Regions from separate parts of the Homo sapiens genome. Here region 2 is linked to region 1. Evidence: fine-mapped expression QTL. A gene starts in region 1. The other region holds a variant in brackets. All regions are shown on one strand. Distances are between the middles of the regions.

Region 1 (10,564 bases):
CAGCATTGCTTCTGATCCAGGAATTCATTTTACAGCAAATGAAGTGTGGCAATGGGCCCATGCTTATAAAATTCACTAGTCTTACCATGTTCCCCACCAACTTGAAGCTGGTTTGACAGAATGATGGAATGACTTTTTTTTTTTTTCTTGAGACGGAGTTTCACTCTTGTTGCCCATGCTGGAGTGCAATGGCATGATCTCGGCTCACTGCAACCTCTGCCTCCCGGGTTCAAATGATTCTCTTGCCTCAGCTTCTTGAGTAGCTGAGATTACAGGCATGCGCCGCCATGCCCAGCTAATTTGGTATTTTTAGTAGAGACGGGTTTTCTCCATGTTGGTCAGGCTGGTGTCGAACTCCTGACCTCAGGAGTTCCCTTCCCTTCCCTTCCTTTCTTTCTCTCTTTCTCTCTTTCTCTCTCCCTCTCCCTCTCTCTCTCTTTTTTTGACTGAGTCTTTCTCTGTTGCCCAGGCTGGAGTGAGGTGGCACAGTCTCGGCTCACTGCAACCTGCACCTCCCAGGTTCAAGTGATTCTCCTGCCTCAGCTTCCCAAGTAGCTGGGATTACAGGCACCCGCTACCACACCTGGCTAATTTTTTGTATTTTTAGTAGAGATGGGGTTTCACCATGTTGGCCAGGATGGTCTCGATCTCCTGACCTCATGATCTGCCCGCCTCAGGTGATCCGCCCACCTTGGCCTCCCAAAGTGCTGGGATTACAGGTGTGAGCCACCGTGCCTGGCCTGGAATGACCTTTTGAAAACACATTTATGTTATCAGCTAGGTCACAACACCTTGCAAGGCTGGAGCATGGATCTTGTCTTTTTTTTTTTTTGAGCATGGATCTTTAGAAGACTGTCTATGTTCTGAATCAGTGTTCAATACATAGGGCTGTTTCTTCCACAGCCAGGATTCATAGGTCCAGGAATTAAAGGATGGAAATGGGAATAGCACAATGCACAATTACCACTAGAGACCCCTGGCCACTTTGGGATCCTCAGGGCTCTGTGTCGGCAGGCGAAGAAAGAAGTTACTGTGCTGGCTGGGGTGATTGATCCTAACTAGCAATGAAAAATTGGAGGCCGGGCATGGTGGCTCATGCCTGTAATCCCAGCACTTTGGAAGGCCAAGGCAGGCAGATCACCTGAGGTCAGGAGTTCACGACCAGCCTGGCCAACATGGTGAAACCCCATCTCTACTAAATACAAAAATTAGCCAGCCATGGTGGCGCATGCCTGTAATCCCAGCTACTCAAGAGGCTGAGGCAGGAGAATCATTTGAACCTGGAAGCCAAAGGTTGCGGTGAGCCGAGATCATGCCATTGCACCTGTAATCCCAGCTACTCAGGAGGCTGAGGCAGGAAAACGGCTTGAACTGGGGAGGCGGAGGTTGCAGTGAGCCAAGATCGCACCACTGCACTCCAGCCTGGGCGACAGAGCAAGACTCCATCTCAAAAAAAAAAACAAACAACAACAACAATAAATAAATAAATAAAAATACAAAAATTAGCTAGGCATGGTGGCGCACACCTCTATTTCCAGCTACTCAGGAGGCTGAAGCAGGAGAATCGCTTGCACCCAGGAGACCAAGGTTGCAGTGAGCTGAGATTGCACCATTGCACTTCAGCCTGGGTGATAGAGTGAGACTCCGTCAAAAAAAAAAAAAAAAGAAAAAGAAAAATTGGAATATTACTTCACAATGGAGGTAAGTATGAGCATATCAAGGAGATTCCTTGATATACTAAGGAAGATTCCTTAGGTCATCTCAGTATTACTGTGACCTGTGATTAAGGTCAATGGAAAACTAGAACAAAACAATCCAGGACTACTAATGGCCCAGACCCTTCAGAAATGAAGCTTTGAGTCAGTCCATCAGGTAAAGAAACAGGTCAACACCTGTTAAGGTGCTTGCTGAAGGCAAAGGGAATAGGATAGTAGTAGAAAACGGTAGCTATTAATACCAGCTATGACCACGTGACCAGTTATGGACCCTAGGACTATGATTGCCATGAGTATTTCCTCATTTTGTTATTTATATGTTTATGTGTGTGTATATCAAGCAAATATCTTCATTTTCTTTTCTCTTTTATTCCCTCATAATGTAACATAAGATGTATTAACTTTATGTCATAGTTTTAAGTATTATTAATTTTGCATCATAATATCTGAGTTATGGGATATGAAGAAGAGTAAACATCACTCAAGGATTTTACCTCCTCTTCTGAGGAAGGGATTAGTGTTTTATTTTTCTTTTTGAGACCGGGTCTTGCTCTGTCACCCAGGCTGGGGTGCAGCATCAATGCAAAGCTTCGAAATGCAGGCTCAAGTGTTCCTCCCACCCCAGCCTCCTGAGTAGCTGGGACTACAGGTGTGTGCCACCATGCCCAGCTAATTTTTTTTTTTTTTTGAGACAGAGTCTTGCTCTGTCGCCAAACTGCAGTGCAGTGGCACAATCTCTGGCTCACTGCAACCTCCGCCTCCCGGGTTCCAGCAATTCTCCTGCCTTAGCCTCCAGAGTAGCTGGGACTACAGGCGTGTGCCACCACGCCCAGCTCATTTTTATATTTTTATGAGGGGTTTCACCATGTTTGCCAGGATGGTCTCGATCTCTTCACCTCGTGATCCGCCCGCCTCGGCCTCCCAAAGTGCTGGGATTATAGGCGTTAGTCACTGCGCCCGGCCTGTAATGGTTAATTTTATGTGTCAACCTCACTGAGCCACGGAGGGCCCAGACATTTGGTCAAACATTAATCTGGAGGTCAGGCACAGTAGCTTGTGCCTGTAATCCCAGCACTTTGGTTGGCTGAGGTAGGAGGATCGCTTGAAGCCAGGAATTTAAGACCGGCCAGGGCATCATAGCAAGACCCAGTCGCTACAAAAAAATTAAAATAAAAAAAAATAGTTGGCTGGGCACGGTGGCTCACGCCTGTAATCCCAGCACTTTGGGAGGCCAAGGTGGGTGGATCACCTGAGGTTAGGAGTTCCAGGAGTTCGAGACCAGCTGGCCAACATGGTGAAACCCCGTCTCTACTAAAAATACAAAAATTAGCTAGGCGTGGTGGTGGATGCCTGTAATCTCAGCTACTCCGGAGGCTGAGTCAGGAGAATTGCTGAAACCTGCGAGGCGGAGGTTGCAGTGAGCCAAGATCATGCCATTGCACTCCAGCCCAGGCTGACAACAGCAACAGCAAGACTATGACTAAAAAAAAAAAAAAACACTGAGTATGGTGGTGCACACCTGTAGTCCCAGCTACTCAGAAGGCTGAGGTGGGAGGATCCCTAAAGTCCAGGAGTTCGAGGTTGCACTGAGCTACAATTGCATCACTGTACTCCAGCCTGGGTGACAAAATGAGTTTTCTGTCTAAAGAAAAATAAACAAAAAAAAATTATTCTGGTTTTGTCTGTGAGGGTGTTTCCAGATGAGATTAATATTTGAATTGGATTGAGAATTAATTAGTGGTAGATTGAGTAAAGCAGATTGCCCTTGTAACATGGGTGAGCCTCATCCAATCATTGAAGACATGAATAAACCAAAAAGGCTGAGTAAAAGCAGCTCCTCCTGACTAACTGCCTAAGCTGAGGCAGTCTTTTCTGGCCTTCTGACTCAGACTGAAACTCAGACTCTTCTTGGACCTTGAGCTGGCTGGCTTTTAGTCTAGAACTACACATCGGTTCTCCTAAATCTCCAGGTTGCTAATTGCAGATCTTGGGACTTCTGAGCCTCCAATAATAACACCGATTGCTTATAATAAATAAATACACACATCCTATTGGTTCTGTTTTTCTGGAGAGTTCTGAGTAATGTATTATATTTCATATTTAAAACAACTTTATTGGGGCACATGTTGCATATCACATAATTCGCTTTTTTTTTTTTTTTTTAAATACGGAGTTTCGCTCTTGTTGCCCAGGCTGGAGTGCAATGGCACGATCTCAGCTCACCGCAACCTCCGCCTCCTGGGTCCAAGCGATTCTCCTGCCTCAGCCTCCTGAGTAGCTGGGATTACAGGCATGTGCCACCACGCCCAGCTAATTTTGTCTTTTTAGTAGCGATGGGGTTTCTCCATGTTGGTCAGGCTGGTCCCGAACTCCCGACCTTAGGTGATCCAACATGGTGAAACCCCATCTCTACTAAAAATACAAAAAATTAGCCGGGTGTGGTAGCGGGTGCCTGTAATCCCAGCTACTTGGGAAGCTGAGGCAGGAGAATCACTTGAACCTGGGAGGTGCAGGTTGCAGTGAGCCGAGACTGTGCCACCTCACTCCAGCCTGGGCAACAGAGAAAGACTCAGTCAAAAAAGGAGAGAGAGAGGGAGAGGGAGAGAGAAAGAGAGAAAGAAAGGAAGGGAAGGGAAGGGAGAAGAAAAGAAAGTAATCTACTTTCTGTCTTTATAGCTTGGCCTTTTCCGGATATTTCATATAAATGGAACCATACAATATGTAATCACTTGTGTCTGGCTTATTTCACTGAGCATAGGGGTTTTTTTGGCCGAACATGGTGGCTCACGCCTGTAATCCCAGCACTTTGGGAGGCCGAGGTTGGTGGATCATTTGAGGTCAGGAGTTTGAGACCAACCTGGCCAAGATGATGAAACCCCGTCTCTACTAAAAATACAAAAATTAGGCAGGCATGGTGGTGACACCTGTAGTCCAGCTACTCGGGAGGCTGAGGCAGGAGAATTTCTTGAACCCGGGCGGTGGAGGTTGCAGTGAGCCGAGATCACGCACTGCACTCCAGCCTGGGTGACAGAGTGAGACTCCAGTCTTAAAAAAAAAAAAAGGGTTTGTTTGTTTTGTTTTTGTTGTTGTTTCTTTTTGATACAGGGCTGCTCTGTCACCCAACTGGAGTGCAGTGGCTTGACTATGGCTTGACCTCTGGGGCTCAGGTGATCTTCTCACCTCAGCCTCCTGGGGTAGCTGGGACAACAGGTACGCACCACCACGCCCAGCTAACTTCTTTTGTATTTTTTGTGGAGAAGGGGTTTCGCCACATTGCTCAAGCTAGTCTCGATCTCTTGGGCTAAAACGATCCTCCCGCCTCGGCCTCCCAAAGTGCTGGGATTACAGGTGTGAGGCACAGCGCCCAGCCTGCATATTCTTTTTGAGGTTCATCCACATTGTAGCTGGTATCCATAGTTTGTTCTGAATAATATTCCATTGTATGGACATAGCATATTTTGTCTACTCATTCACATGTTAATGGACATTTAGGTTGTCTCCAATTTTTCCAACTGGGCTATTATGAGTGAGACAGATAAGAAAATTCCTGTGCAAGTTTTTGTGTGTATACATGCTTTCATTTCTCTTAGGCAGATCCCTAAGAGTGAAATTATTGGGTCACATGGTAAATTTATGTTTAACATTTTAAAAAATTGCCAAACTGTTTTCCAAAGTGGCTACACCATTTTACATTTCTACCACCAATATATGAGGGTTCTCGTTTCTCCACATTCTCTCCAACACTTATCTTTTTAAAAAAGGTTTTTGTTGTTGTTGTTGTTTGCAGTTTTTACAGTTTTATTTAAACAGAAAACATACACATGAGCTGTCTACTCATTTTCTTTGCTGCGCAGCCTGGGATTGGGGTTGGTGACTCTGACGGCCAGCTGGGCAGCTCTTTTCCACGATGGCTTTGCGGTTCTTGGAGGAAACATTGTGAGCGATCTCAGCACAGTAAGATTTGTTGCACAACAGCAGCACTTCCAGCTCCTTGACGTGTGGACCAGGAATTTCCGGAAGCCACTGGGCAGCATGTGCTTTGTTTTCTTGTTGCTCCCATAATCAATGTTGGGCATCAAGATCTAACCCTTGAACCTTCCACGAACCCTGTTGTCAATACCTCTGGGTTTCCGCCGGTTACGCTTAATTTTGACATATCGGTCAGACTGGTGCCGGATAAACTTCTTGGTTCTCTTTTTGACGATCTTGGGCTTCCCAAGGGTTCTGAGGACGGTTTATAAAAGTGCACTGAGGGGAGGCTGAGACAGGAGAATTGCTTGAACCCGGGAGGCGGAGGTTGCAGTGAGCCGAGATCGTGCCCATCCTAGGCGACAGAGAGAGACTCTATGTCAAAAATAAATAAATAAATAAATAAATAAATAAATAAATAAATAAATAAAATGCACTGAGGAGACAGATTTTTGAGAGTTAAAAGGACCCTCTCAAAAACCGACCGCGGTCCTCCACTGGGTAGGGGGCGCTCCAAGACAGGGACTCTTCTAGCCTGTTGCCTCTCCATGTTAGCGATATCCTCGTTGCTAGGAGACTAGACGCGTCTTACAGTGGGAGAGCTCAGCCTCACTGATAGCCGGGGATCTCTCCTGTTCGAGGGCTGAGATCTCCGGTCCCACAACCGCCCACAACCAGGGGCACTTCTGGAAGTCCCCTTTCTAGGGACATTTTTCTTCTAAGCTCTGTAACGCGGGCCGAGGCAGACCGAGGCTTCTTTCCCGGATCCAATCCCCTGCCCCCATGCCTAAGAAAGAAAAAATGGCCAAGACGCCCCTGTCCGATGAGAAGCAGCTGCTTCTGTTTCAGCAGAAGTTGCTGGCAGAGGAGGAGATGGCCAAAAAGAAGGAGAGGCTCCTCAGCCAGTTCTTGAAGGTGATGGCCTTTTGCATTATGTCCTGCTCAACCCCATCCACCCCCTGCCCTGGCCCTGTCACTGAGGAAACCTCATTTTCATCCTGACCTCCCCTCCTCCGGAAATCCTGAGACCCAGATATACTTAGATTTCAGGCAACATTGTTTGGGAGGCGGGGGTGTTCTCTGCGAAGCACGGAGGGGGTGCGTGGTATACGGCTTGGCAATCTTTACTGAATCCCAGAACTGGGACCGTAGGTCCTGTCAGCTGTTCCAGCTGTCTGGAATGCTGATATTCTCCCTGGAGATAGGTCATTACAAACAACATCCTACTCTGATGCTCCCACCCTGAAGGAAATTCACCCTTGCCCTCCCTAAATGCCATCAGGCCGTTCCCATCGAAAAGGGGTAAGGTGTCAGCTGATAAATTAAGAGTGATCTTGTTTGTTGTACTGAAAGGCCCTGACTTCCTGGAGGTATATTTATTCCTTCACACAGGACAAGCTGGCCAAGGAGGAACACAACAGTGCTCTGAACCTTAATAAGATTAACACACAGTGGAGAACTGTCCTTCGGGAAGTCAAGACCAGAGAACTTCATAAGGACATTGAGATCCTCAGCCAAACATTTGAACGAGTGGTGGACTGTAAGGACAATGTCATCAAGGTAGGCACTCTTTCCAAGGAAACCTTGAGTATGGCTTCCTGACCTCTTAATAGAATGAGCCTAGTGAATCCATCTTAAAGCCCTCACAAGACACAGGCTGTGAGAAAGCCAGGCTATTGGTAATAATGGTTTTCACAGAAATAAAAAATAGAATATTGGGCTTTCATCCCTCTCTCCCTTAGAGGACCCACTCTTCTTGTCATCTATTGCCCAAAACCAGTACTATCCAATAGTAGAGTCATAAGGCACAGTAGACATCACCCAGTGACTTGAAATGAGTCCCACACCTTCATTTCAATGTCAGAAGGCTCAGTTCCAGAGGGGAACTGACTTGCCCAAGGTCACATAGCTAGTCAGTGAGAGAACCAGGACTCCAGCATGTGTTTATTGATTCCCACTGCAGTGCTCCATTCAACTAAATTGTTTGGCCTCTTGATTCAACTTCAGTGGCCCTGGATAAGGTTGAGAAGATCTCCATGGGTAAGAGCAGTTCTGGATTTCTAAGCAATTCAATCAGCCATCCTTATGCTCTTGGGAGGTTCTTGAGTTCTTGATTCCATCCTATCTTTTCTTCTAAGGGATTTTCTGTACCCCTTCTTTTGTCTTACTTTTAATATTCTGCCTCCATTTACTGCCTTCTCCTTAGTCTTTTCCATTATTTATTTATTTATTTATTTGACATGGAGTCTTGCTCTGTTGCCAGGCTGGAGTGCAGTGGCACAATCTCGGCTCAGTGCAACCTCTGCCTCCCAGGTTCAAGTGATTCTTCTGCCTCAGCCTCCCGAGTAGCTGTGACTACAGGCATGTGCCACCATGCCTGGCTAATTTTTGTATTTTTAGTTGAGATGGGGGTTTCACCATGTTGGCCAGGATGGTCTCGATCTCCTGACCTTGTGACCCACCCGCCTTGGCCTCCCAAAGTGCTGGGATTACAGGCGTGAGCCACTGCACCCAGCCAGAGTCTTTTCCATTTTCAACAAAACAAAGCCCACAGTAACAGCAAAATATACATTGCCAACATGGTATTCCCCCTCTAGAAAACACACATTTCTCTTTCATAGCCTAATCCCTGGGGAAAGAGCTCAGCAGACCCTGGGCAGCTTCCAGAGATAAATATTAAGAGTCCTCAAATTTGCAATAACCATTATTCATTAGAAGTCCACATACCCCACCAGTTACACCTTATGGATTTTTTTTTTTTTTTTTTGAGGCAGAGTTTCACTCCTGTTGCCCAGGCTGGAGTGCAATGGCGCAGTCTTGGCTCACTGCAACCTCCGCCTCCCGAGTTCAGCCTCCTGAGTAGCTGGGATTACAGGCATGTGCCACCACGCCCACTAATTTTGTATTTTTAGTAGAGATGGGGTTTCTTCATGTCGGTTAGGCTGGTCTTAAACTCCCGACCTCAGGTGATCCGCCCGCCTCAGTCTCCCAAAGTGCTGGGATTACAGGCATGAGCCACCACGCCCAGCCACTGAGGAGTTTCACTCTTGTCACCAGGCTGGAGTACAGTGGCGCGATCTCGGCTCACTGCAACCTCTGCCTCCTGGGTTCAAGCGATTCTCCTGCCTCAACCTCCTGAATAGCTGGGATTACAGGCGCCCACCACCAAGCCCAGGTAATTTTTGTATTTTTAGTGGAGACGGGATTTCACCATGTTGGCCAGGCTGGTCTGGAACTCCTGACCTTAGGTGATCCACCTGCCTCGGCCTCCCAAAGTGCTGGGATTACAGACGTTAGCCACCGCGCCCAGCCCATACCTTATGGATTTTTAAGAGGCTTTTTCAGACACTTATTGGAAGTTATCAAACACTTGATAAGAGGGCCAGGCACGGTGGCTCAAGCCTGTAATCCCAGCACTTTGGGAGGCTGAGGCAGGCGGATCACGAGGTCAGGAGATCGAGACCATCCTGGCTAACATGGTGAAACCCCATCTCTACTAAAAATACAAAAAATTAGCCAGGCGTGGTGGCGGGCACCTGTAGTCCCAGCTACTCGGGAGGCTGAGGCGGGAGAATGGCGTGAACCCGGGAGGTGGAGCTTGCAGTGAGCAGAGATTGTGCCACTGCACTCCAGCCTGGGTGACAGAGCGAGACTCCGTCTCAAAAAAAACAAAACAAAACAAAAAAACACTTGATAAGAACAGCAGTGTTCATTGCCTAGTGTTCCATTATTGGAATGCTAAGTTTGTGGGAGTTATGTATCTCGTACTGTTCAAGGTCATCGCCAAGATCTGATTTTTCACAAAAAATATTTGCAACCTCAGGCATGAATGGGTTAAGGGAAGCTGAGTAGTTGGCCAGGTTCACCCCGAGACAATTAACTTCTTCCTACACAGCAGCCTTGCAGCTTATGATAACAGTTCTTGCTTAGGTAAATCACACACTGTTAATATTAACCACCTTCAGGGTCATTCCTGAATGAGACTACACATATTAAATGTGGAAATGTTAGTGATCCTCACTATCTCTACTTCTTCACTTCCATTTTACCCTGTATCCCACAGCATCTGATTTCTACCCTTCTCTAGGAAACTGCTCAGGTAAAGGCCACTGGTTCAGAATTGTGGCTACTTTTCATCATTTAGTCTTTATCTAACCTAACCTCTCTATGGCACTGACATTCTTGGTCATGCCCTGGGTCTTGAAATTCTCCTTTGGCTTGCATGACACCATTCTGTCATTTTTCCTACCTCTGGGACATAAATCAGTCACTCCAGTGAGTTTATCTTCCTCTCTCCATCCTCTGAACTTCAGCATTCCCCGGATTTCTGAGTCTGGCCATCTCACCCTTTAACCAGTTTTCTAGGGCCAATCTTACACATTACCCTGGCTTTATTTTATTTTATTTTTTGAGACAGAGTCTCACTTTGTTGTCCAGGCTGAAGTGCAGTAGCACAATCATAGCTCACTACACTCAAGCTCCTGGGCTCAAGTGATCCTCCCACCTGAGCAGTTGGGACTACAGGCTCTCACTATGACTGGCTAAATTTTTAAATTATTTTAATTTTTAGTAGAGACAAGGTCTCGCTGTGTTGCCCAGGCTGATCCTCCCACCTCACCCTCTGGAGTAGCTGGGACCACAGGAGCATACCACCTCACCTAACAAATTTTTAAATTTTTTATAGAGATGCAGTCTCGTTATGTTGCCCATGCTGGTCTTGAACTCCTGGCCTCAAGCAGTCCTCCCACTTCGGCCTCCCAAAGTGCTAGTATTACAGGCATGAGCCACTGGGCTCGGTCCATCCTAGATTTTGCATCTATCCCTGACCTTTGTTACTAAGTGTTGTATAAGTCGTCTACTTTAAAGTAGTTTTCAAAGCT
Region 2 (10,564 bases), 33 kb after region 1:
TATAAAAATAATTTTTAATATTAAATATTACACGAATAAACAAGATATATAGCAATACAAGGGAATGAGTGGGAGGTGTTAAATGAGTTGTGCTAACAGAGCTAAAGGAGCCAACGTGGGGAAAAACTATAAAAGTCCTTGTAGTTGCAGAGGGCACAGGCAGCTTTGTGGAGGAGGTGAAACTTGAGCTAGATCTTGGAGTGGGATTTTTAAACAAGTGAGAAAGGAGGTGAAGGCAGAGGGCCAGATGTTTGGGAAAAATGAATGGACTGATTTGGCTAAAGTAAGGGATTTGGCCAGAGACTAGAGAGAGGTGGCTGGAGAGGGAATTAAGGGCTAGTTGTAGGCCGGGTGCAGTGGCTCACGCCTGTAATCCCAGCACTTTGGGAGGCCGAGGCGGGCGGATCACGAGGTCAGGATATCGAGACCCATCCTGGCTAACACGGTGAAACCCCGTCTCTACTAAAATTACAAAAAATTAGCCAGGCGTGGTGGCGGGTACCTGTAGTCCCAGCTACTCGGGAGGCTGAGGCAGGAGAATGGCGTGAACCCAGGAGGCGGAGCTTGCAGTGAGCCGAGATCGCGCCACTGCACTCCAGCCTGGGCGACAGAGCGAGACTCCAGCTTAAAAAAAAAAAAAAAAAAAAAAAAAAAAAAGGCTAGTTGTGAAGAACCTTGAATGTCAGACTAAGGCAGTGGGAACACATTGCAAGTTTCTAAGCAAAAGGATGACACAGCATACTGCACTGATGTATCAGCAGACTCGAACAGTGTGGTGAAGGTGGAAGGCTATTGTCTTATCCAGGTCTGAGGCTCTGTTCAGGAACCTGAAGGGGAAGAGGAGTGGAGTAGGAGAAGGTGGTAGTAGAAATGGAAAGGGCAAAACTATTAAACACAATATCCACCCACAGGCAGCACAAGCCCATCTGCACCCTGGAGGGACCAGAGAAGGAGCTTTTTCCTTGGATCAAGTTAGAAGAAATCCAAACAACAGAGAAAGGTGAGATGATTCTTGGAAAGATAGGAGAGTTGGCCCACCCCTGGCTGGAGATACAACTTAATCACAGAACCATTGCTAGAAAAGCCTCCACACTCAAAGGTGTCTCTGTCAGTGTGTAGGAGAAACCCTACCACAGTACCTGGGCTTCCAAGACTCATGGGGCACCCACCATGCCCAGCTTGATTAAAGACAATGGTGTTTATTAATTCATCCATTTGTTCATCAAGGTTGCATGACTATTATGTGCCAAAGAATAAGCAGAACACTGCTCTTTAAATGTTCTTAAGTGTTTATTTATAACAGGTTGTTAATAAAGTAAAAGCCTGAGTTGGCATATATAAATTTGGGTTTAAAATTTGATTTTGGTTGAGACAGGGTCTTGCTGTGTCACCAGTGCGGTGGCGCAAACACAGCTCACTGCAGCCTCAATCTCTCAGGCTCAAGCAATCCTCCTGCCTCAGCCTCCTGAGTAGCTGGGACCACAGGCACGTGCCACCATGCCCAACTAATTAAAAACATTTTTTTTTGGCCGGGCACAATGGCTCATGCCTGTAAATCCAGCACTTTGGGAGGCTGGGGTGGGAGGACTGCTTGAGCCCAGGAGTTTGAAACCAGCTTGGGCAACATAGTGAAATCCCATCTCTATTTTTTTTAAATAAAAGTAAAAATATATATATATATATAATATAAACATATAATTGTATATATATCATATAAACATATATTTATATATATATATATATATATATATATATATATATTTTTTTTTTTTTTTTTTTTTTTTTTTTTCTTATAGAGATGGGGCCTCACCATGTTGCCCAGGTTGATCTCAAACTCCTGGGCTCAAGCTATCCTCCCACCTAAGCCTCCCAAAGTGTTGAGGTTATAGAATTGAGCCACCATGCCTGGCCTGGTGTTGTATTTTCAAGGGTATACATACCCCCAGCTGACTAGATGTTTTCTTTCAGGTATGTTTATGCATATATTCATCCAAGAATGAAGCACTTACTTACTTCCTCCACTCTTCCCCTATGGCTGTTCTAATCAAAGAGGTATCATCCCATAAATGCAAGATTTGGCAAAGACAAGAACAGATTCCCCATCTCCTATCTATAACCTAAGGCCAAGAGTGCCCTTTATTACTATATTCAGAACTCAGAAAGAATTCCTGTGGGTTAGAGCCCCAAGCTAAGCCCTCCAAGCCTTAAAAGTCCTTCTATTCAATTCTGTGCTGGGAGGACCCTGAACGATATATGGGATGGAGGGGTGAAGGTGGAAGTGGGGGGAAGCAGGTGCCAGGCGGACAAGCCCATTCTCAAACCTGCTGCCTCGCCTGGATTGACTGCCAGACAGCTCTCAATATGCCTGGTTTGTGAGGAAGGGTGAGGGAAGGAAGGGTACATGGGTAGAACTGGTCAGCCCTCTGCATAGATAGCCAGGGTTTTGGATTGAGTATCCTCTCTTCTACACCATGTTCAGCTCAGAAGCCGGAAGTGCTCCTCAACTAGAGGCCAGATACTCTCTTCTGCAACTCACAGCCAACATGACACACACAAACAGACACTCATCTTCAAGCCTTGATGGTGAATGGTCTCAACCCAACTTCCTCACATCTACACCTCCAACCACTGCCTTCGGTGGCTTTGCTCCCTTTACCTGACTAAATGATTCCATTTCCTCTGTCCTAACCCTCTTCCCTTTTCTCAGGAATTCAGAGTCATTCTTACCCATACCAGCAATCAGGGTCAGGAAACCCAATCAGAAAGAAAAACTTGAAGAGGAAGGCGGGCATCCGGATCCTATCACTCCCCAGTGACCAGCAAGACACTCTCTCTCCAGGTACTGGGTTGGAAAGTGAGAGAACTGAATTCTGGCTCTCCTACCTTCACACTCTTCAGAACTGGAAAAGAAGCTTTTCTGCCAGGCACGGTGGCTCATGCCTGTAATCCCAGTGCTTTGGGAGGCCAAGGTGGGCGAATCACTTGAGGTCACAAGTTCAAGACCAGCCTGGCCAACATGGTGAAACCCCATCTCTACTAAAAATAGAAAAATCAGCTGGGCATGGTGGCACATACCTGTAGTCCCAGCTACTCGGAGGCTGAGGCAGGAGAATTGCTTGAACCTGAGAGGCAGAGGTTGCAGTGAGCCGAGATCACGCCATTGCACTCCAGCTTGGGCAAGAGTGAGACTCCGTCTCAAAAAAAAAAAAAAAAATTAGCAGGGAGTTGTGGTGTGCACTCATAATCCCAGCAACTCGGAAAAGGCTGAGGCACAAGAATCGCTTGAACCTGGGAGGCAGAGGTTACAGTGAGCCGAGATCACGCCACTGCATTCCGGCCTGGGTGACAGAGACTGTGTCTCAAAAAAAAAAAAAGCTTTTCTTAATAATATTACTGCTGCCCAAAGACATGACTCCCTACACTAAGCAGCAGCAATGGAAGGGGTGTCCCCCAACTCTCACTACCCAACGTGGTATACTACAGATGTCCCAAAAGGATTCCACAGCATCCTAGAAATGGATCCCCAGCCCCCTCCCTGAGTTCAGTGGTTTGACCTACTTTTAGCAGATGCCTAAAAACATCGAATGTACTAAATACATACTTGTCAACTTCCTGCTGTAACCAACCTAGGCGCTTGAACTGGAAGTGGTGTATGCAGTGAATCCCCAGAGCCTTTAGACCTTATACCTCAAGGCTGAGAAACCCACACATACATTCATTCTCTGCCACTGCCCCTATACTCTGCAATGAAGGGGAGGGTTTTGCCCTCCATCCCACCTTAGCCAACCTAAGCCCTTCCACTGGCTTTCTACAGGCTCATTTGGGAAGCTCCCTTGCCCAGATTATCCTGAAGTGGACCCTGGGTCCAAGTCTTCCGCCAGTCCATGACTGATGCTATGCATGTTCTGGAAGATGGGATTGCTGTTTGTCCTAAGAGCTGGGTGCTAAGTATCTACCTCCCAGGTTCAGTCTCCTCTTCATCCCCTATCCCCTCAAAAGAACTGGAAGGCTTCAGCAACTGCCACAAGAGGGCTCCCCTCTACTTCCTTCCTGGCATTCTAAATTGAGTACTAAGGGACAGATGGGAATAGGTCATCCTCTTCCCCAAGTTGTTCAGGGGTCCAAAGACCCCCCAGTGGCCCACCATTCAGCTAAAGTCCTCTCCCTTATCATTATGAGAGGTTGTAGCTCTGAAAGATATCTATTTGCTAATATAGAAATAAAACACCTGGCCGGGCGTGGTGGCTCACGCCTGTAATCCTAGCACTTTGGGAGGCTGAGGTGGGCAGATCACCTGAGGTCAGGAGTTCAAGACCAGTCTCACTAACATGGAGAAACCCATCTCTACTAAAAATACAAAATTAGCCGGGTGTGGTGGCGCATGCCTGTAATCCCAGCTCCTCAGGAGGCTGAAGCAGGAGAATTGCTTGAACCCGGGAGCCCAGGAGGAGAGGCTGTGGTGAGCCGATATCGTGCCATTGCCCTCCAGCCTGGGCAACAAGACCAAATTCCGTCTCAAAAAAAAAAAAAAAAAAAAAGAAGAAGAAGAAAGAAAACACTTGGGAAAGATACTCTTATCAGCACCCTGTCACCAAGCAGAACTTTGGAGAAGCCTGGAAGGAGGAAAGTGTCATCTGATCTTGAGGAGTAGGTGGGTAATGTTCAAAGTCATTGGGATTGATAAGACATGTCTGGTTGGAGTAGTTTGAGAGTTATATATGGGTGGAAGCACTGGTCCTTGAGGGTGATGGCCTATTAATAATAGAAGTGCTGAAAAGGAAAATTGGCAGGGGAGGCAGCAGGGAAGTAACTGAATATAAATTATATGCTTCACACTGGTACTTGGGGCTCTCAAACTTATTATATGCCTAAATCCTATCCCTTTCCCACAAAAGCAGGCTGGGAAGACCTCTGTCCTCAAAGCTTAAGAAAATATTAAGATTGGGGAAGGCTTGCCTGGCTCACCCAGACCTCACCCACCCTAAAGGTAGCACCATCCCTTTCTTTGCCTGGAGCC[A/G]GACACTGGTAGCAGGGGAGGAACAGAATAGTGGTGGGAGTGCGATGGGAGGATGGAGGCTTTATGGAAAAGGTCTATTCCTCAAGACATTTGTGGGATCTCTGGATGAGGCTTGGCATCCTGACAATGAAAAACCACACGCCTGAAGTAGAGCTGATGCAGGGCCATCAGTTGTAAGAAGGATTAAGGTCATTACACTGCCCAGACGTTTATCCTTCATGTTTATTCACTGCCAAAGTCCAGAACTAGACTAGTGAGGGGGTCTCTGTTCAAACTAGAAGCACCTCATGTGCAAGGCTGAGGAGATCTGAGAGTAGAGGCACATGGGGCCCTCCAAGTTCAGGGCCCTTCAGCCAGTGAAGTCCATACAGTCTACCAACAGGTGAGAAATACAGCTGATTTCAGGTTTAAACCCTTTAGAACTAGAGGAGGAAAGTCACGAAGCCCTCACACTCTGATGCCCAATTCATTTGGGCTCCCCCGCCGCGGGGTATGATGGGAAGAAATAACCAGTGTGGAGTGGCACTAAGTTCCTCCATAACCTTACTCTCTATCAATCAAGTGTGCCTTTTACCCCTTTGCTGAAAGAAGGAGCACTATGGAGAGAGGGACCAGAAACAGGACTCCCCTCACCATGAAACTACTGTCCCACGGCTGCTGCACAGCAAAGATGAAGGTCGGCTCCAAAGCTGCATAAAACAAGTTTAATTTCCAACCAGGGTCACAGTCATCGCGTTATCCCACATTTTGAGCAAGGATAGAGAAGGTGAGTTATTAAACATATACAGTCTACATTCCAGAGGAGGAACTGCAGTTACCACTATAACACCACAGACAAACTTTGGGGTGGGGGGAGCGGGAGTCCTCAGGAAGCAGAAAGCTGGAATCAGGGAAAGCATAAAATTAAACCTACCAGAGAGGAGAGGAGAGGGAGTGGGCAGAAATGGAATGAAACACCCAATCCCAAAAGAGCTGTTAAGTGAATGGGAATGTAGAAAGGACCACCCCTGCCAAGGGCTTAGCAGCCAGGGATACTACCAAGATCACTTACTGCCCCCTGCTGGACAGATCTGGGGCAGCACCAAGGCAACCTCCTAACATTTCCAGCCCCAGATTGGTCCCTGGAGCCCCCAAAAAAACAAGGTGAGGGGTGAGGCCTGAAGTGAGGAAAACCTATTTAGGACTGACATCTAACTAGAGAAAGTCAGGGAATGAGGCAGGAGAAGAGGCAAAGTCCTCATGAACCACAAAGATAGAGTGGAAAATCCTAAGTAGGAAAAAATACATGGAAAAGGGCAAATGAGCAACAGCAGTGAATGAGTTGAGATTGAAAAGGAAAGAGTTCAAGGAAGGAGAGGCAATGGGGCAAGACAAAATAAATCTGAGGAAACAGAGCAAATAAAAAGTATGGAGGGAAGCATCTGTGGGGCCAGGGAAATGAATACATTTTTAAATGAAATAGAACCTCCAACACCCCCCCCACAACCACCACACACAAACACACCCACACCCATATACACACACACTCACACACACACACAGGCCTAGAGAGCAAGATACCTGCACACACCTGCTGCATCCTGGGTAACACATCACTAAGTAACTGGCACTGAGGGAGATACCCCTGGAACCTCTCTTTCACAGTTCAATCTTGGATGGGGTTACTAATATTGATCCATCTGCTATCAACAAAAGTGGCCAGGAAACCTGGCCCCATGGAGTGGGGCTTGGGACAGCCCTACTGGGAAGGGGTCCCTCAGCCATGCTGTGGGGGGCCCTGGGCCCTGACCTTAGCAGGTTATGGGCAGCTGTCTCGGAGCTCAGGGCGCAGCCAGCACACACAGGAGCCCACAGGACAGCCACGTCTTCACAGAAACTACAGAAGTCAGGACCCAGGCGAGGACCTCAGGAACAAGTGCCCCCTGCAGACAGAGAGACGCAGTAGCAACAGCTTCTGAACAACTACATAATAATGCGGGGAGAATCCTGAAGACCACTGCATCCCACAAGCACTGACAACCACTTCAGGATTTTATTTCCTCCACTCTAACCCCCAGATCCATTTATGAGAAGTGAGTGAGGATGGCAGGGGCATGGAGGGTGAAGGGACAGCAAGGATGGTCTGAGGGCCTGGAAACAATAGAAAATCTTCGTCCTTTAGCATATCCTGGACTAGAAAACAAGAGTTGGAGAAGAGGGGGGTTGATACTAAGGTCAGCTATGTCACCCCACTTCCCAGCTCCTCATTAGAATACCCAGTCAGCCCTGGTCAGGCCAGTAGGAGTACTAGGGTGAGAAAATTCTGACCAAGGACAGATGACCCATCCAACCCCTAAGATCAGAAGGGTGGTGGGGCACTGGAAGGCAGGAATGGGATTGGCCCATGCCTCACCTTCTCCTAATAACAAAAGAGAATGAAGATGGAAAACCTCAGGCCTTCGCCTCCCTTCCCCCAATGCCCTGGGTCCCTAACACACACCATGGACTTGCCATCCCCACCCCCCAGTCAAGCTCCAGAGGAACAGATCTGAAGATGGTGGGGAAGGATCAGTTGAACACTCTAAGCTGATAAGAGTGAGTGGGTTCCTCTCTCCTTCCCAACAGTAAGGCAGAGCAGAGTGGCATCTCCTTGGGAACAGTCATCTAGAGATAAATGCCATCCTCCAGCCCTAAGAAGGGTGGAGAGAAGAGTACAAGGAAAATGGTGGTGAAGAATCCATCATCTGTCCTATCATCCAGAAAAACCTACCTGCAGAGAGGAGGGTAACCAGTCAAAGACTGGGGCAGTCCGGCTTGACTAATGCCCTCCCACCTTCTTCCCTTAATCTCACCAACACGGAAGGGGCAGATGACAGGCTCCAGTGGGCAGTGTCCTGGCTGCAAGCCCTGAGCTTCACTCCACCCCCTCCCCGCTCCCCCCGGCCCCCACAAATATATCTCTCTATACATGTATATACAGGCGCACACATGCACGCAAACACAGAGAGGCCCGTGCAATTTCCATGTAAAACAGGGAGAGGGTGGCAAAGGAAAGGCAAACAGGGAGTAGAAGGGCTTGTGGGGACAGGGAAAGGACTCAGATGCCAAGAGGACAGCAACCACTGCCAAACAAAGAGAATACCCCACTCGACCTCCCGAAACCCAGAGGGTGAGAGAGAGAGGGGCCACCCCATGAAACCGTAACAACTTTTTGTTTTAAATCCAGTAAATTGGAATGACTCATCATCAGGACAGCAATTAGGGATTGGTCATATAGGTGGACAGGAAAAAGGAGGGGAGGCAGGGGAGGCAAGGCTCTTGCTGGGCATGTGGACATGATACCCAGGGCCCTGGCCACACTTGCATGGAGAGGAAGGGGTAGGACTGGGGCAGGGTGACAGTAGGTATGTCAGGGGTGGGTGGGGTGCTTTGTTAGGGCTGTCTGGCTTTCACTTCTTGTTTTTGAGCTGATTGGCCAGCCAGTCCAGGCCTTCGTACAGCCCGTCCCCGCTGGTGGCACAGGTGGCCTGAATGTACCAGTTACGGTGACGAAGGGAATGCAGGCCCAGCTTGTCTGTGATCTCAGCAGCGTTCATAGCATTAGGCAGATCCTGGAGCACGTGGGAGACACATAAAAAGAAGCCTCAGGATTTTTTAAAGGCTTCTAGAACACCCATCTACCAAAGAAATGTGTACCAGCACCTTCCCCTCCTCCTTTATTTTAGGAAACCCAGAACAAGATCCTAAGGAGCTACTTTGGATTTAGTCACCTAGAACTCAAGATCCAAAGCACTAGAGGTCACTGTACTGAAGAATTGGAAACCAAATACGAGGATGGTGGGGAAGCAAGAGACGTGATTCAGACTGACCAAAGAATCAGGTCTGTCTGACAGCAGGAGTGAGGCCAATTCTCCTAAAGTAGATAACAGGCAAGATGAAAGAAAGATTTGAGACAATTCCTGAGGACTGAAATGTTGCTAAATAAAGCTTGGGGTGGGGCACAAGAAGAGGGGCATAAAGAAGCCAAGTGCTCAGTTTCCCACGCTTCTAACATTGAGAGCATACTAAAAGGGTTAACCATATAATAGGCCCAAGAGCCAACAATTTCCACAGCCAGTTTGCTGTCTCCCAAATTCAGGGGTGGGAAGAAGTCTCACCTGTTTGTTTGCAAAGACAAGGAGTACAGCATCCCGGAGCTCGTCCTCCGCCAGCATTCTCATCAGCTCTTCCCGGGCCTCATTTACTCGCTCCCGATCATTGCTGTCGACCACAAATATCAACCCTAGGAAGGCAGAGCATGGGCTGCACTAAGATGACAGGTAACCCCCTCCCCCCAACCAAAAGACCACACCTGCCTGACACCCTCCAAATATTTGCTCCCTTTCCTCCCTTTCTTCTGCCCCCAGGAGCTGCAGCAGGGTAACAGTTGGCCACCCATTAACAAAGACAGCCACACTCTCTGCTCATACCCAACCAACCCACGCTAGGCCTGAGCATACCTTGGGTGTTCTGGAAGTAGTGTCTCCAGAGGGGTCGAATCTTGTCCTGGCCACCCACATCCCACACTGTAAAGCTGATGTTCTTATACTCCACTGTCTCCACATTGAACCCTTTGGAAAAAAAACAGGCAATGGCCACTTGGCCTCAAACACTAGCCCCGCAAACACCACCACAATGAGTTTGGTTCTGCTTTCCCCCAGTGGTGGCCATAACACCAACAATGGAACAAAAGCTAAGGCTTCCTCAGACCTGATAATCGTTAAGCTAGCAGCCTGAAGGCCAAAATGAAAACCTAAGAGAAGTCAAAGAGGATGAGGAAGTTGGTTGAGAGGTTCACAGTTGCCTGGGTAACGTGGGCCAACTTTCCTGACTTTTCCACTCAGTCTTTGGTGCTCCCTCCTACAAAATGACTCAGCCCTGCTCTGGTACTTTGGCTACCAGAGTCGGCCTCAGCTAAGATGTGGGGCCTGAGAGGCAGAGTGAAGAAAGGGAAGTAAGCTGGCATCCTGGAGCCCCAAAGGCAGAGCCAGCTGACAATGCTGACTGGAGCCCCCATCTACATAGCAAATGTAGGGAGACCTCCCTTCAGCAAACTGTAACCAAGATTGGCCACCAAAGATCTAAACCCAAGTAATTCCAAGCCTTTGGCAGGAACATCAAAGCCTTTTACCTGCTTTCCAAACAACACAGAGAAGAAACCAACTCCGTGCCTGAGGGCAGCTGTTGAGTGCCAGGCCATGGAAGTTCCCGCATCAGGGAGAGCCAGGTTAGGTGGGCAAACAGCAGCCTCAGCACCTGGTAGTAAGCTAAACAACACCACCCTCTTTTCTGAACCCCACAAATTGTATGGACTTGCCTGGGGAGAAGAGGCCAGGTTGGGGAACCAGGAATAGGTCCCTGCCCTGCCTCAGCTGCCGGCGTGAAAGCCCACATCCAAGCTGTGCTCTTACCAATGGTAGGGATGGTGGTGACGATCTCCCCGAGTTTCAGCTTGTATAGGATGGTGGTCTTTCCTGCGGCATCCAGGCCCACCATCAGGATGCGCATCTCCTTCTTCCCAATCAGGCT

The links.
Region 2: its variant is fine-mapped to the expression of DRC2 in gastroesophageal junction (GTEx, PIP above 0.99).

The regions. Positions count from the first base shown.
Region 1 is chr12:48,897,870-48,908,433 of GRCh38, forward strand. It overlaps DRC2 (dynein regulatory complex subunit 2), which reads left to right and starts at 6,264. Exons shown (of 8, transcript NM_033124.5): 1 at 6,264-6,599; 2 at 7,077-7,244. The coding sequence starts at 6,468. It also overlaps the pseudogene RPL32P27. RefSeq lists silencers at 3,543-3,743, 6,221-6,270.
Region 2 is chr12:48,930,502-48,941,065 of GRCh38, forward strand. It overlaps ARF3 (ARF GTPase 3), which reads right to left. Exons shown (of 5, transcript NM_001659.3): 2 at 10,447-10,564; 3 at 9,496-9,606; 4 at 9,154-9,278; 5 at 5,222-8,607. The coding sequence ends at 8,446. It also overlaps a transcript of FKBP11 not described here. Among named protein-coding and RNA genes, the nearest start is that of FKBP11, 10 kb to the left of the region's middle. RefSeq lists a silencer at 5,988-6,177. The variant A/G (reference allele first, on the strand shown) is at 5,018.